Homo sapiens: one gene and its partner. The protein of the gene in region 2 purifies or fractionates together with the protein of the main gene of each other region. This does not show direct contact. Each region holds a gene or a part of one and is shown on either strand. Other genes may lie near its edges.

The links. The genes of interacting proteins can lie anywhere in the genome.
Region 1: the proteins of PRKCI (region 2) and CD44 purify together in Homo sapiens (affinity purification with mass spectrometry; 3 studies listed by BioGRID and IntAct, with this or other methods). This does not show direct contact.

What each region holds. Positions count from the first base shown.
Region 1 is NC_000011.10:35,142,154-35,149,179, forward strand, and holds part of CD44 (CD44 antigen isoform 1 precursor), read left to right. Parts: intron 1-7,026. UniProt on the Homo sapiens protein: Cell-surface receptor that plays a role in cell-cell interactions, cell adhesion and migration, helping them to sense and respond to changes in the tissue microenvironment.
Region 2 is NC_000003.12:170,218,103-170,225,434, forward strand, and holds the start of PRKCI (protein kinase C iota type), read left to right. Parts: upstream 1-4,321; 5' UTR 4,322-4,567; coding exon 4,568-4,668; intron 4,669-7,332.

The sequences.
Region 1 (7,026 bases), on a different chromosome or scaffold from region 2:
CTCCTTGTCTCTGTGGGTGAGGGGATCTTTTTTTTTAATTATTATTATACTTTAAGTTTTAGGGTTCAACCATTGTGGAAGTCAGTGTGGCGATTCCTCAGGGATCTAGAACTAGAAATACCATTTGACCCAGCCATCCCATTACTGGGTATATACCCAAAGGACTACAAATCATGCTGCTATAAAGACACATGCACATGTATGTTTATTGTGGCATTATTCACAATAGCAAAGACTTGGAACCAACCCAAATGTCCAACAATGATAGACTGGGTGAGGGGATCTTTGCTTGGGAATTGCATGCCTGGTGTTGAGAAAGAGGAGAGCGTCTGAGAGCCCTGGGTCTTAGGGCTGGCACACACCTTTCTGCTCCCTTCTCTCTAATTGAGCATTAGAGACTCCGCCCCCTGCTGGGAGTTAGAACTTTAGCTGTGTTTTCCCATGTGAAGGAGCAAAGAGGCAAAGCTTCATCTCTGTTGGGGCTAGCATCAACTAATTCAGGTATTCCCCATTTACACATTGGACATCTACTTGCTGCAAAGGCATGGTGACAAGTCCTTGTGTGGGAGGCTGGCAGCCAGTAGGAAAATGTTCCATTTGTTTTTTCCCAAATTTCCCCACAAAGGAGGGGATGCTGGACAGCATGAAATTCTTAGTTCATGACAGATTCCCTTCCATTCATTCAGGAACTATTTCCTGACTCATTGTCATAGACTCAGAGATGGGAACTCTAAGGATCATTTAGAAAATCTGAAAGAGAGGGACTAGTGACTTCCCCTCTCTGCGACTTGTTAAGATATTAGGGCAGGGCATTTCTCTCATGTATCTCTATCATGAGGACTGTGGGAGCCTCAACCCCACCCCCTGCAGTGGGTGGGGAGGGTGTGGTCTACTGGGGTAACAACATTTGTTTCACACCTTAAATACTACCTTACAGACTCATTACAGTTTTATATATTACTCTACAATATACCCAATTTGAGTTTAATACAATAATAATGATATATATTTTTGACCATATAGCAATGTTGGTGTTCGACAATGATTCTCTGTATTGTCCTGGGGCTTCTAGCACCTCCTGGAACATCGCTAGATGGTCAGGAGCACCAAAGTTTTAAAAACCTGATGCTCTGCTGTGGTACCATATGGTCCTGTGTAAAGCAGGGTCCTAAGTCCTGAGTCTCTAGGAAATACTGCTCAGTGAGCACTGACTCTATACTAGATGTGAAGCCGGGGGTAGCACAGGATATCTTATCTAAGCCTCCCAACAGCCCAATACACCTAGCACTCTCTTTAACTCCATTTTCTAGATAAAGAGATCGAGACTTGTGGAGATGGCATGACTTGCCCCAGGATCCAGTGGTGGAGTTGGGATTTCCGCATTATCTAACATCCTCCCATGTTAGACTCCAATGCTTATGCTCCTTCAATTCATTACGTGTCTGGAGGACTTTGGAAGCTATACGTGGCTCTCCCACACTACCTGTCCCCTGTGGCCAGCATAAGTGAACTCTTGCATGGGTGGCTTCTCTCTCCATCCCCGGCAGGCTGTGGACTCTTGGCTGCCCTGCCCTGGCCTGTCTCTCCCCAGGTTTGGCCACAGATATCAGAGATGCCAACCAAGTTATTTGTAACTAAAATAAATCACATCCCTTATCAGAGTCCAGCTGCCCTCCCAGATATGCTCTGATTTACAGGCTTGGAATAAAGAGAGAGGTGGTTGCTTGTCTACAGGACAAGTTAGGGCAATGCCCTCTGCCTGAATATTAGGAAAGCAGCATTACAGGAGCTCTCACTCTGACCAGGCAAGCATTTCACATGCACAGACCCAGAGACCCACTCCTCACATGCTCATTAGTAGGTTGTGCGACCCTGGGTAGGAGGCTGACATGGGTCTTGAACTGAAACCCAGTGTGTGGCTCTAGGTGACATGTGGCCACCCAAGTGAGGTTTCGGATCCACCTGCAGTGTCAGATGCTTCAAGGCTGGGGTCCCCTGATGGAGAGGAGGTGGTTGGAGATCACCTGGGCCTCCTCAGCACTGCCTCCTGGCTGGGGCTGGGGCTGGGGATAAGAGAGTAACTGCAATTGTGCTTCCCCGGCACCTTCGCTTTAGGTCACTCCACCGAAGAGCCTGAAAGGGAAGTGGTTCTTGCGAAAGAATGAGCTGAAGCAGGTGGCAGATGCTACCAGGCACCGTGTAGTTTTCAAAGGGGATCTTTTTCTGCCTCAGAGAGAAATTCTGGGGTTTGCACAGCAAGAAACCGATGACTCAATTTCCTTTGTGTCCCTGCTTTAATGGGAAGGTTGTAGGCGTTCTTTAGAATGGCAGGGTAGGTTGATACCTTCTACCTTAAATTTGAATCCCACTTTTCACTCACTTAGCAGGTTGAATTTTTTTTAAGTGTACCCCCCACAGCTGCCCAACTGGGTTTGCGAGGCAAGCCCAACTTGCCAGAGTAAACCGGAAGGGGTGCTTTCTAAAGTTTGTGGTTCTGGAGTCTGGCCAGGCATGGATACAGTCATTGTGCGTTCCAGATTTTCTGGGAGAGTCAGGATCTCAAATATGCAAACACTCTACCAATTGATGTCTAGTGCATATTTTGACTAAATGTTTATATATTTTTCCACAAATAAATACATGACTTAATGTAATTGAAAGTCAAACACTTTTTAAAAATGCTTTTTGCATAAAGAAATTCACATCTTTACAACTCCTTAACTAGGATGGTGTCAATTAAATTAATGTTTGATTCAGGACATGTGTACTTTGGAGGTAAGTATTTCATATTCCTCCCCTCTCCATTGCTCAATTGCCCCACTGGGTGACGTACCAAGATAAGCCACATGTTTGATTCTTGTTTGCTGGATGTGGACATATGCACATTGCAGGTATGCCTATAAGTACATGCCTGAAGGATCTATGTGTGTGGTGGGAATTGGTGATGCCAAAGAATGCTAAAGACTTTCATGCCCCTTAAAGGGGAAAATAACCACAACAAAACAAATTCCAATGTATCTTCTCCTGTCTTCTGCAGCACTGGGGGAGTCCCCTGATAACAGGGATCATGTCACATTCATTTTTGTGGGCCCAGATCCCAGTAATATTGACCCATAACTGTTGAACTGCAATGAATGTCTAGAATATAAAAGTCATGATATCTATATATATGGAAGCATGCTGTCAGTATGGGCTAAGGTGCAAATACATTTATGTGTAAGTGAGAACCATGGTGATGGCTGTGTTGCTCAGGACAGGGCTGACTTGGCTGGCTGACTGCCCACCACAGGCCTCATGTTTGGTCTACCCCAAACAGTGAGCTCACCCATCTGTTTGTTTGCGGCTTTGGTGGCTGCCTGCTGTGACCGCTGGGGACATCTGGCTAAAGACAGGGTTACTAGATAGTTGGGCTGAGAAGGGAGTGGGAGCCAGTGAGATGAGGACACCAACCCCAAATTTAAGCCTCAAAACAAAAACACTCCCCAGCAGCAGCCACCTTGGGGTTCTAGTTATTTTGGAGATACTGATACGAGGTTGAGATCCTTGGGTGAGAGGCCCACACTCCTCCAACCCCCATGTCTGCTTCTGGAAGGTGGTGGCAGAGGAGAGAAGTAGAAGTACTATATGGGAGATGCGGGAGATTCTTGCCTTCTCTGTCGGTCTCTTTGGGCAATTATCAAGCTGTCATCTGACCAGATACTACCATAGCTTCTTCGGGGGCAAATCCGTAGGGAATCCTGACATCCGACGGGGAGCCACTTTGGCAATGGCAAACGGTGTCTCCTCTCCACAGAGCTTGTGATGTCAGAAATTACCCATAACTGGGGCAGGTTTTGTCTTCCCAAAGATTGTCTGCCCAGCTAGACCTGAGAGACAGGGAGACAAACACAGAATGAGGGGGTGGGTCTTGTGGGGGTGGGGAACGATGGAAACTCACAGAGCCAGATCTCCCCGAGTTTGAGTTGCACTGGCTGCCTGGGTGTGTCCTCCTGAGGTAAGTGTCCCTGCGAAGTGCAAGTGTGGGCAGACAGATCTCAGGTGGGTGGGGAGGGACTGAGTCACCAAGGAGGTGATTTGCAAAACTCAGGTCCCAGAAACTTTCAGGTCTTCAGCTTTTAAAAGTAAAGGTTAATTGCAAAACTCCGGGGTTGAGGGAAGAGATTATTCACATAGACCAGTCATTTTGAGCATCTGCTGTTGTGGCATTGCAAGTCTCCTTCGCAGTGCCTGAAAGTTCATTTGTTTTTGAGAGCTCTTACGCTTTTTCTGTTTGCATCTTTGCACAAGTTCTATGTTTCTGAGAACCCTCACCACTATTAGTAATAATAGCAAACACTTACAGAGTGTTGACCATGTACCAGCGCCATTCTAATTGTTTCCTATATACTGCCTTGTTTAATCCAAACACTGACTTCATGAAGGTGGTGCTGTTATTATCTGTCTTTTACATATGAGGAAACTGAGGCACAGAGAATTTAAGTAGCTTGCCCAAGGCCATGCAGCTGATAAGTGATGGCGCTGGGATTCAAACTCACATCTGGCTACAGAGTTCATGCTCTTTGTCACTATGTTAGAGTGCTTCTCTTGGTATATTAAGATATCGAGGCACCCTAGAAATCCAGACGATTGTACCTGGAAGTACTGTAGTTGTTTTCAAAAACTTCATTTGGGAATCTAGTTGTGGGTGAGGTCATAACATCCACTGAGCTTTTAAACATGATGTCAGAGGAAGGGGTTAGAATTGCAAAAATGAAGGAGGAGGAAGTTGTAATGGAAACTTCTGCCAATGCATATTCTGAGTTGACTCATTCATTCTGATCTCTGAATAGAAGCTCTACTCTCTTCCATGTGATGGAAAGTTGAGGATAGGGTAGGGCTGAGAGGGATGTGAATTGAGTTGTTTGTTCATTAGGATAGGATAGGGCTGAAAGGGATGTGAATTGAGTTGTTTGTTCATTATCACTTCATTATTTGTCACCTGGATGAAAGGTAAAGGTGGCTGATTAGTGTTTCTCCATCAGCTAGAACTTTGACTGGGAAATGAGCCAATCAAATAGCAGCAAAATATTTGCCCTCACCTTACAGGCCCTTGGTTCCAGGGTCTTCTCTCCACCGGCTAGAATGGATGAGGGAGGGAGAGAAACTCTGAGAAAAGAGGCTGTCAGGAGTAGGGCTGTACATATCCAGGGCACAAGGAATTTGGCAAAAGCTGGAAGTATACTATAGCCCTTCTCTCCAGCCCTAGCCTAAACCAGATGACCAGGCTTCTATTTGGCCCAGCATGTGACCATCCCATCAGGGAGCAAGAGAGTTTCCTCTGGGTACCCCTCACTGAGAAAAAAGCCACCCAGGAAGGGAGGAGGCAAGGCCCCCTGGGAACATCTGGCTCAGTCCACAGGAAGGGATGCAGGCCTTTTCCTGGGAATGAGGACTCATCCCATATTCCAGCCCCCTTCCCCCAACTTTTTTTTTTTTCAATTTTAGTGCATCTCTTTACACTTAACAGGTCTGCAGTGACTTCTAGGAGGATCCACACACCAATCGTGGAACTAGGCAGCATCTTTTTCCACTTCCTTTCCAAGATAGTAGCACGATAACAGTAAAGCCCCTTTGCAAGTGTTCACTATTATGCACATTAAGATGCCAGGGAGAGGGCTGGGAAAGGTGGCTCACACCTGTAATCCCAGCACTTTGGGAGGCCGAGGCAGGCGGATGACCTGAGGTCGGGAGTTCGAGACCAGCCTGACCAACATGGAGAAACCCCGTCTCTACTAAAAATACAAAAAAATTAGCCGGGCATGGTGGTGCATGCCTGTAATCTCAGCTACTTGGGAGGCTGAGGCAGGAGAATCACTTGAACCCGGGAGGCAGAGGTTGCAGTGAGCCAAGATCACGCCATTGCACTCCAGCCTGGGCAACAAGAGCGAAACTCGGTCTCAAAAAAAAAAAAGGTGCCAGGGAGAAATGAACAATTCCATGCAGCCAACACCTGGTCTCCTGCGTTTGGCTTAGAAGGGCATTTCTGCCCAAGCCCCCAGCTCTAGTCTTTGCACACTTTAAATGAGTAGCTACTACATGCCAATCACAGATGTTGCCTCTGCTGAGTATCCAGTCAAAAAACCAGAATCTAACAGAGCTAACTAAGCACCATCTTGCAGGAAACCAGCTGACGTCAGCTCCGCAGCCACCAGTGAGTTACTGGGCCCACATCTGCCTGCAAGAGGGGGAGGGGAATTCAGGTAACCCACAAGAGGGGATAAAAGTTCGGGGAAGAAATCTCCTGTCAAGGAGTTTGTTTTTGCAGTGGATCCTCTGCAGTGAGACTAGTTGTCTTTACAATATCATTAGAGGTCAGGTACATTCCTGTAGACTCCCTTAAGTGACTTGCTTTCTCCTATTGTTCCCCCTGAAAATTCATAAAAACCTCACAAACACATCTCCATTTAAAAAGAGAAAGTTTAAAGGATGCCATGTAATGGTTATCTCTTTTCTTTTGCCAGTGAGCATAAAAGCTCCTTAGGGAAAAGCCCAAACCCTCTATACATTTTCATATTCATGATAGCCCTGAGCGGTCAGCACAGTTCCCCAATTATAGTGGGTGCTCAATAAACACTTGGATGGCTTACTGAATTAATAATGTTTCTAGACTTGGCTAGCAAAGCCATCTCCGTTACTTATCTTTTGTGATTTTTATAGGTTCTGTCTAATTCTTTTTCTTCATTTTTTTTCTTTCTGGTCTATACAAATCTTCTTTCATTTTTCTCTATTGCTACTTGTAGCGATCCTCAACCCGCCTCCTCCCTTGAAATTTCTGTTCTCTGCACTCTCTTCAGTCTAAAGAGATCTTTCTTGAGGTTTGAAATGTTACACAAGGCAGGGGAAGTTTAGAGCTAATTGTATTTTGTCCAGTAGAACGGGGATCTGGATTTCCTATAGGTCTGGCTGCCTCTTTGTCTACACCTTTACTTCCAAATCTGGCCTCATGTATAAAAAGACCCCAAACCTTAAAATCATGTTCTCAACAAT
Region 2 (7,332 bases):
AGTAGAGACGGGGTTTCACTGCGTTGGCCAGGATGGTCTCCAACTCCTGACCTCGTGATCCGCCCGCCTCAGCCTCCCAAGGTGCTGGGATTACAGGCATGAGCCACCACACCTGGCCTCATTTTATTTGTTTTTTAATCTGTATTTTAAAATGACAGTCTTGGCTGGTCACAGTGGCTCACGCCTGTAATCCCAGCACTTTGGGAGGCCGAGGCGGGTGGATCACGAGGTCAGGAGATTGAGACCATCCTGGCTAACACAGTGAAACCCTGTCTCTACTAAAAATACAAAAAATTAGCTGGGCATGGTGGCGAGTGCCTGTAGTCCCAGCTACTCAGGAGGCTGAGGCAGGAGACTGGCATGAGCCCAGGAGGCGGAGCTTGCAGTCAGCCCAGATCGTGCCACTGCACTCCAGCCTGGGCAACAGAGCGAGACTCCATCTCAAAAAAAAAAAAAAAAAAAATGACAGTCTTATATGCAGGAAATCCTAAGGAATTCACCTAATAAACAAGTTCTGCAATACAATATCAACAATATGCAAAAATCAACTGCATTTCTCTATAGTAGAAGTGAATAATTCAAAAAGGAAACTAAGAAAACAATTTGTTTACAATAGCATTATAAAGAATAAAATATTTAAGAGTAAAAGAAGTGCAAAATGTATACTCTGAAAATGAGAAAGCAATTGAAGCTGCCTAAATAAATGAAAAGTTATCCCATGTTCATGGATTGGAAGGTTTAATACTGTTAACATGACAAAAACCACACAAACTGATTCACAGATTCAAGGCAATCGTTATCAAAATCTCAGCTGGCTTTCTTAAAGAAATTGACAAGTTGATCCTAAAATTCACATGAAAATGTAAGGGATCCAGAATAGCCAAGACACTCTTGAAAAAAAAAAAAGTTGTAAGACTCACACTTCCTTGTTTTAAAAGTTACTAAAAAACTACAGTAATGAAGACACTGTGATTATTGTCAAAGGATAGACAAATCAATCAATAGAATAGAATTTAAAATCCAGGAATAAACCCTTAAATTTTGGTCATTTGATTTTTGACAATTGTGCAAACAATTAAATGGGAGAAAAATAGTCTTTTCAACAAATGATGGTGGGATAACTGAATATCCACATGCAAAGAAATCAATTTGGACCACTTACATTAGACACAAAAATTAACCCAAAATGGATCATAAGCTAAAAAGTAAGAGTTTAAACTATAAAACTTCTAGAAGGAAATATAGGTGTAAATCTTCATGATCTTAGATTACACAAAGCCCTCTTAGACATGACACTAAAAACATATATAACATATAGTCTGGCACACAGTAAAACAAACAAAAACCATACGTGACAACAACAAAATAAATTAGACCTCGTGAAAATTAAAAATTTTTATGCTGCAAATAATACCATCAAAAATATGAAAAGATTAAAAAAATGAAAAGATAATGCACAGAGTGGGAGAAAATATTTGCAAATAATCTAATAAGAGATGTATTTCCAGAATATATAAAGAGCTCTGGCCAGGCATGGTGGCTCACACCTATAATCTTAGCACTTTGGGAAGTCAAGGTGGGAAGATCACTTGAGCCCAGGAGTTGAAGATCAGCCTTGACATTATAGGAAGACCTAGTCTCTACAAAAACGAGAAAAACAAATTAGCTGGGTGTGGTGGCATATGCCTATGGGCCTAGCTACTCAGTAGGCTGAAGTGGAAGGATCGCTTGAGCCCAGGAGTTGGAGAGCTGTGATCATGCCATGCACTCCAGTCTGTGCAACAGAGCAAGATCTTGTCTTGAAGAAAAAAAAAAGAAAAGAGAGAACTCTTACAACTCAATGAAAAAAGACAACCCAATTTAAAAATGATTAAAGGATCTGAATAGATAGTTCTCCAAGAAGATATATAAATGGCCAATAAAAACACGAAAACATACCCAACATCATTAGTCATTAGGGAGATGTACATCAAAACTGTAATGAGATACCACTTCACAACCACTAGGATGGTTATGATAAAGAAGATGGGAAAAAAACCAAGTATTGGCAAGGACATTAAAAAAAACTGAAACCTTCACTGGGTATGGTGGCTTACACCTGTAATCTCAGCACTTTGGGAGGCTGAGGCAGGCAGATGGCTTCAGTCCAGGAGATTGAGACCAGCCTGGACAACATGGCAAAACCCCGGCGCTACAAAAAACACAAAATTTAGCAGGGTGTGGTGGCACATGCCTGTAGTCCCAGCTACTAGCGATGTTCAGAATAGAAAAACTCATAGCAACAGAAAATATATTATTGGTTGCCAGAGGTTGAGGAGAGTGGGGAGTAACTGCTAATGGATATGCAGTTACTTTCAGGGTGCTGAAAATACTCTGGATTTAGGTAGAGGTGATGGTTGCAAAACTTTGTGAAGATACTTAAAACTATCAAATTTTACACTTTAAATGAGTAAGTTGTATGGCATGTGAATTATCTTTTTTTAAAAAAATGAGACGGGATCTCACTGTGCATTGTGTTGCCCAGGGACGGAGTCTCGCTGGAGTGCAGTGGTGCAGTCTCAGAGGCTCACAGCAACCTCTGCCTCCTGGGTTTAAGCGATTCTCGTGCCTCAGCCTCCGGAGTAGCTGGGATTACAGGTGCCCGTATATTTTATAATATATTCCATAATTAATCGCTCCGTATTAAACTTGCTGATGCAGGTCTCCAATTACTGAAAAACCTGATACCAAGTTTTTCAATGGGATTTTTTTGTTTGTTTAAGAGATGGGGTCTCACCATGTTGCTCAGGCTGGCCTTGAACTCCTGGGCTCAAGTGATCCTCCAGCCTCAGCCTCTCAAAGGCTGGGACTACAGGCATGTAGCACTTTGCCTGACTCAAGGGGAATTTTTAGTAAGAGTATATAATCCAAGTCTGTAGCAGTTGGAGGATGTCGTACCACGCTGAAGTGTCACACATAACTGATGACTCAGTCCCCCAAGCCTATTTTATCATCGTAAAGAAAGCTATTTCTTTGATTATTCCAACTCTTTCAGCACCAGGACTGCTGCAGGGGCTGGATTCATGCTACCTGTAGTTGCAGTGTAAATTATGTGTCAGAGCCAAGATCCTAGGAAAGTCAAAGACTAGGTTACAAGAGCGATTCTTTTTTTTTTTTTTTTTTTTTTTTTTTGAGACAGAGTCTTGCTCTGTCGCCCAGGCTGGAGTGCAGTGGCACAGTCTTGGCTCACTGCAACCTCCGCCTCCCTGGTTCACGCCATTCTCCTGCCTTAGCCTCCCGAGTAGCTGGGACTACAGGCGCCCGCCACCACGCCCGGCTAATTTTTTGTGTTTTTAGTAGAGACGGGGTTTCACCGTGTTAGCCAGGATGGTCTCGATCTCCTGACCTTGTGATCCGCCCGCCTCGGCCTCCCAAAGTGCTGGGATTACAGGCTTGAGCCACCGCGCCCGGCCAAGGACGATTCTTTCTAATCTTTGGTAAGCCAGTTTTTACAGAATGAAATGCTCTTGGATTGACTGACTTGATTGGGTAAGTATTCATTGGGCTCTTGTTCCATGCAAGGGCAGTCTACAAGGGCCTAGATATGGGGGCCCCCAAAGAAGAAAAATCGGTTTTTCATCATATTTTCTGGTTGAGTTTCTTCCTTTATTATATTTGTTACATATGTTATTAAATTATTTCCATAAAAGAGGTTATGCTGAGCAGGTAACCAAATTCTTGTTCCCCCAAAAGACATGTATAATTCAGACGATTTATGCAATTAGAAGAAGGGAGACTTCATCAGTTAATAAAGTCTAGAACGTGAGGAAGCCCAGTCATTTCCAGGACCTTCAGATGCCCAAGCTGGATCCAGGTTTTCCACCCCGACAGCTCCAGGGAGCACGCTGGAGAGACAGACTTCACCAGCGGGAAGGCGCGGCACCCTACGCGCAAGGAACCTCAAGTCCCAGAATCCTATGAGGACTCCAAATCCCAGAAACCTGCACGCAAATCTATCCCGGGTGCCAAGTCGGCCGACCGCAGACGTGACCAAGTTGCGAGGCTAGGGTGAGGTGTCGTAGAATTTGTCCCTACCATTGTCCCTGCAGGGAAGAGACTTTAGTGATCTAGAGCTGGTCATTGTCTCTTTCACAGCTCGCGTGAAAGCACCCCTCTCGGCGTGTTTGATGCCATGATCAGCGTCTCCCATTCCCTCTGTCCCCTTTCTCTGCCCCCGTAAGGATGGTTCAGCCCGGTATTGAGGCTCCTTGAGCTGGCTGGATGGTTGCGCCCGCCCTACCCCGGAATGTGGGCCTTTGGAGCGAGCGAAGTGGGAGGGACCGACGCAGGAGGTGTCTTGGGCCCGGGCGGCTGTAGAGGCGGCGGCGCCTACGGGCAGTGGGAGGAGCCGCGCGGTTCCGGCTGCTCCGGCGAGGCGACCCTTGGGTCGGCGCTGCGGGCGAGGTGGGCAGGTAGGTGGGCGGACGGCCGCGGTTCTCCGGCAAGCGCAGGCGGCGGAGTCCCCCACGGCGCCCGAAGCGCCCCCCCGCACCCCCGGCCTCCAGCGTTGAGGCGGGGGAGTGAGGAGATGCCGACCCAGAGGGACAGCAGCACCATGTCCCACACGGTCGCAGGCGGCGGCAGCGGGGACCATTCCCACCAGGTCCGGGTGAAAGCCTACTACCGCGGGTGAGTGTCCTGGGACAGGGCGGTGGGCGGGAGGGGACAGGCCGGCTCCACTCGGCCTGGAGGAGGGGAGGGTGAGGGGCTGGAGGTGTTGTGGGCGGATTGGGCTGGGCGGGCGGGCGGCTCCGGTGACTCAGGGTGAGTGACGAAGTGATAGGGGTGGGGGCGAAGCAAGGGGATGCAGTACTGGGGGCGCCCCCAGGTATGGCGGTGCGGGGAGCCGAGGGGCCAGAGTAGGGTCCGAGAAGGAAGCTAGGGTTAGAGTAGGTGCACCTGGTGTGGACGAGAGACTCGCCTCCTGAGAGCTTTGTAGGGGCCTTGCATCCTTAAGTCTGGGTGTATTTGGGGTTGCGAGTTGAGGATTCCAAGTGATGCCTTAGTTAACTCAGTTTGCTGTGGGGATAGAAAACGGGACTTCTTCAGTTAGCTGTCCGTTTTGATTACCAGCAGGCCTAACGCCTCTGGTTCTCTGAGATATACCTCCATCCCCGTTGTGTTCACGTAGTGTATCTGCACTGCCAGTATATTAGACATAGGGGTTGTATTTAAGAATCAAGTCGATGCGTTTTCAGGGACGTGCAGTGGGTACTTACGTGTCGTCAAGATTAAGTTGCATGTGTGTAAATCAAAATTTTGTGAGCCTTTCTTTCTCAGTGTTGTTTCAACGACTACCCGATAGGGTGAGATACTGCAAGGTGAGGAGACTAGCCTAGTTACAGTTTTAAATTCTCTGATCTTCACTCCCTTACTATGGTTACAAGAAAAAACCCAGTTCTAAGTTCATTGTGTTAAATCATTTTCTATCAGTGACGCAAAGTGCCCCCCTTCCTTTAAATTCAGTTGTGGTTTGAATTTTTTTTTGAGATAATTATGTTTAGGAGCATTAGAAACGTGAAATGTTAGTGTGACCATAAAGGTTGGAGACTGAGAAGTCACAGAAAACCCAGCTACTTTGGCTTGCCTTACTGCTTGTCCAGGTAGAAGTAAATTGCTTTAAAAAACTCAAGCAGTGCTAGGTTGAAATTTTAATGCATACTTTTACATTCCTGAGAGGATCAGTGAAGATAGCAAACTCTCAAACTACCTCTCTTGTTTTGATTTCAAAGAAAATCTGAGCCCCTAAATGTTGTATTGATTTGATGTAAGGACTTTTTTTTTTATTATTATACTTTAAGTTTTAGGGTACATGTGCACAATGTGCAGGTTAGTTACATGTGTATACATGTGCCATACTGGTGTGCTGCACCCATTAACTCGTCATTTACATTAGGTATATCTCCTAATGGTATCCCTCCCCCCTCCCCCCACCCCACAACAGTCCCCAGGGTGTGATGTTCCCCTTCCTGTGTCCATGTGTTCTCATTGTTCAATTCCCATCTGTGAGTGAGAACATGCGGTGTTTGGTTTTTTGTCCTTGATGTAAGGACTTTTAAATTTGCTGCCATGAAGCCTCTGGCCTCTGTTTATTATTAGCTTGACTGTATGCAGGAGTAGTTTATTGGAGTTATATTGGACAGTATGATAACTTTGTGTTTAAGCAGGTAAAACTGATTAAGGAGGTTTTTATTTTAAATCAGTACCAAGAAACGTGTGGATATTTTTTAAAGTTTGTAGTTGTCACAAGAGCTGTTTTGACTTGAGGATGGTCAGCCATGAACTTTGCAAGGTGAGAAAAAAGCTTCCTTTGCTTTTTTTTTTTTAAACCCTTACCTGTAATTTGATGAATGAGATGTTTCACTTTATTCTTTTATTTTATTTTTGTTTGTTTGTTTTTGAGACAGGGTCTTACTCTGTTACCCATGCTGGAGTGCAGTGGCACAATCTCGGCTCACTGCATTCTCCGCCTCCCGGGTTCAAGCAATTCGCCTGCCTCAGCCTTCTGAGTAGCTGGGATTACAGGCATGTGCCACCACACCCGGCTAATTTTTGTATTTTTAGTAGAGACGGGGTTTCACCATATTGGCCAGGCATGTCTTGAACTCCTGGCCTCAAATGATGCGCTCGTCTTGGCTTCCCAAATTGCTGGGATTACAGGCATGAGCCACTGCGCCTGGCCCTAAGGCTTTCAATAAATTCTTATTAATTGAGATCATCTTCTCCAATGAGTCTATGAAAGGTAAGAAATTAGTGCTTCTATTTTCCCATTTGTATTAGTTTGACACATGTAAATAGGCCCAGTTAGTAAATGAAAATCATTGTAAACTCCTTTGAGAAGAAATCAAAGTCTTGCTGTACTTCATGAATTTAGATAGCAAATTATCTTGGCTTATTGCTCCAGTTATTAAAAAGAAGAGAATAAGGACATACAGCTTCTTTAGTGTTTGACTGCAATTTTTCCAAGACATTCAAGGTAACATTGTCTTTTAAAATCTGTGAAATTTTGCTGCGGCGCAAATAACCTCTTGCCCATTGTATACTGGTCTTTGCTCAATGAAAGCTTTCTAATGGTACCTTCATTTCAAGCCTCATTTAAAGACAATATCAGCACTCTAAATTGTACCAAATTCCTGTCCTCTGAAATTAGATGTTAAGATTATGTGTTTGTATAGTCTAAACTGATGATTGTGGTATTACATAGTCAGCTGCTCATTAATATAGATGAAGCTAAAATGAGTCACGGACAAGGATAGTTAATAAACAGGTTGGCTAACTAGAACACCTACCTGA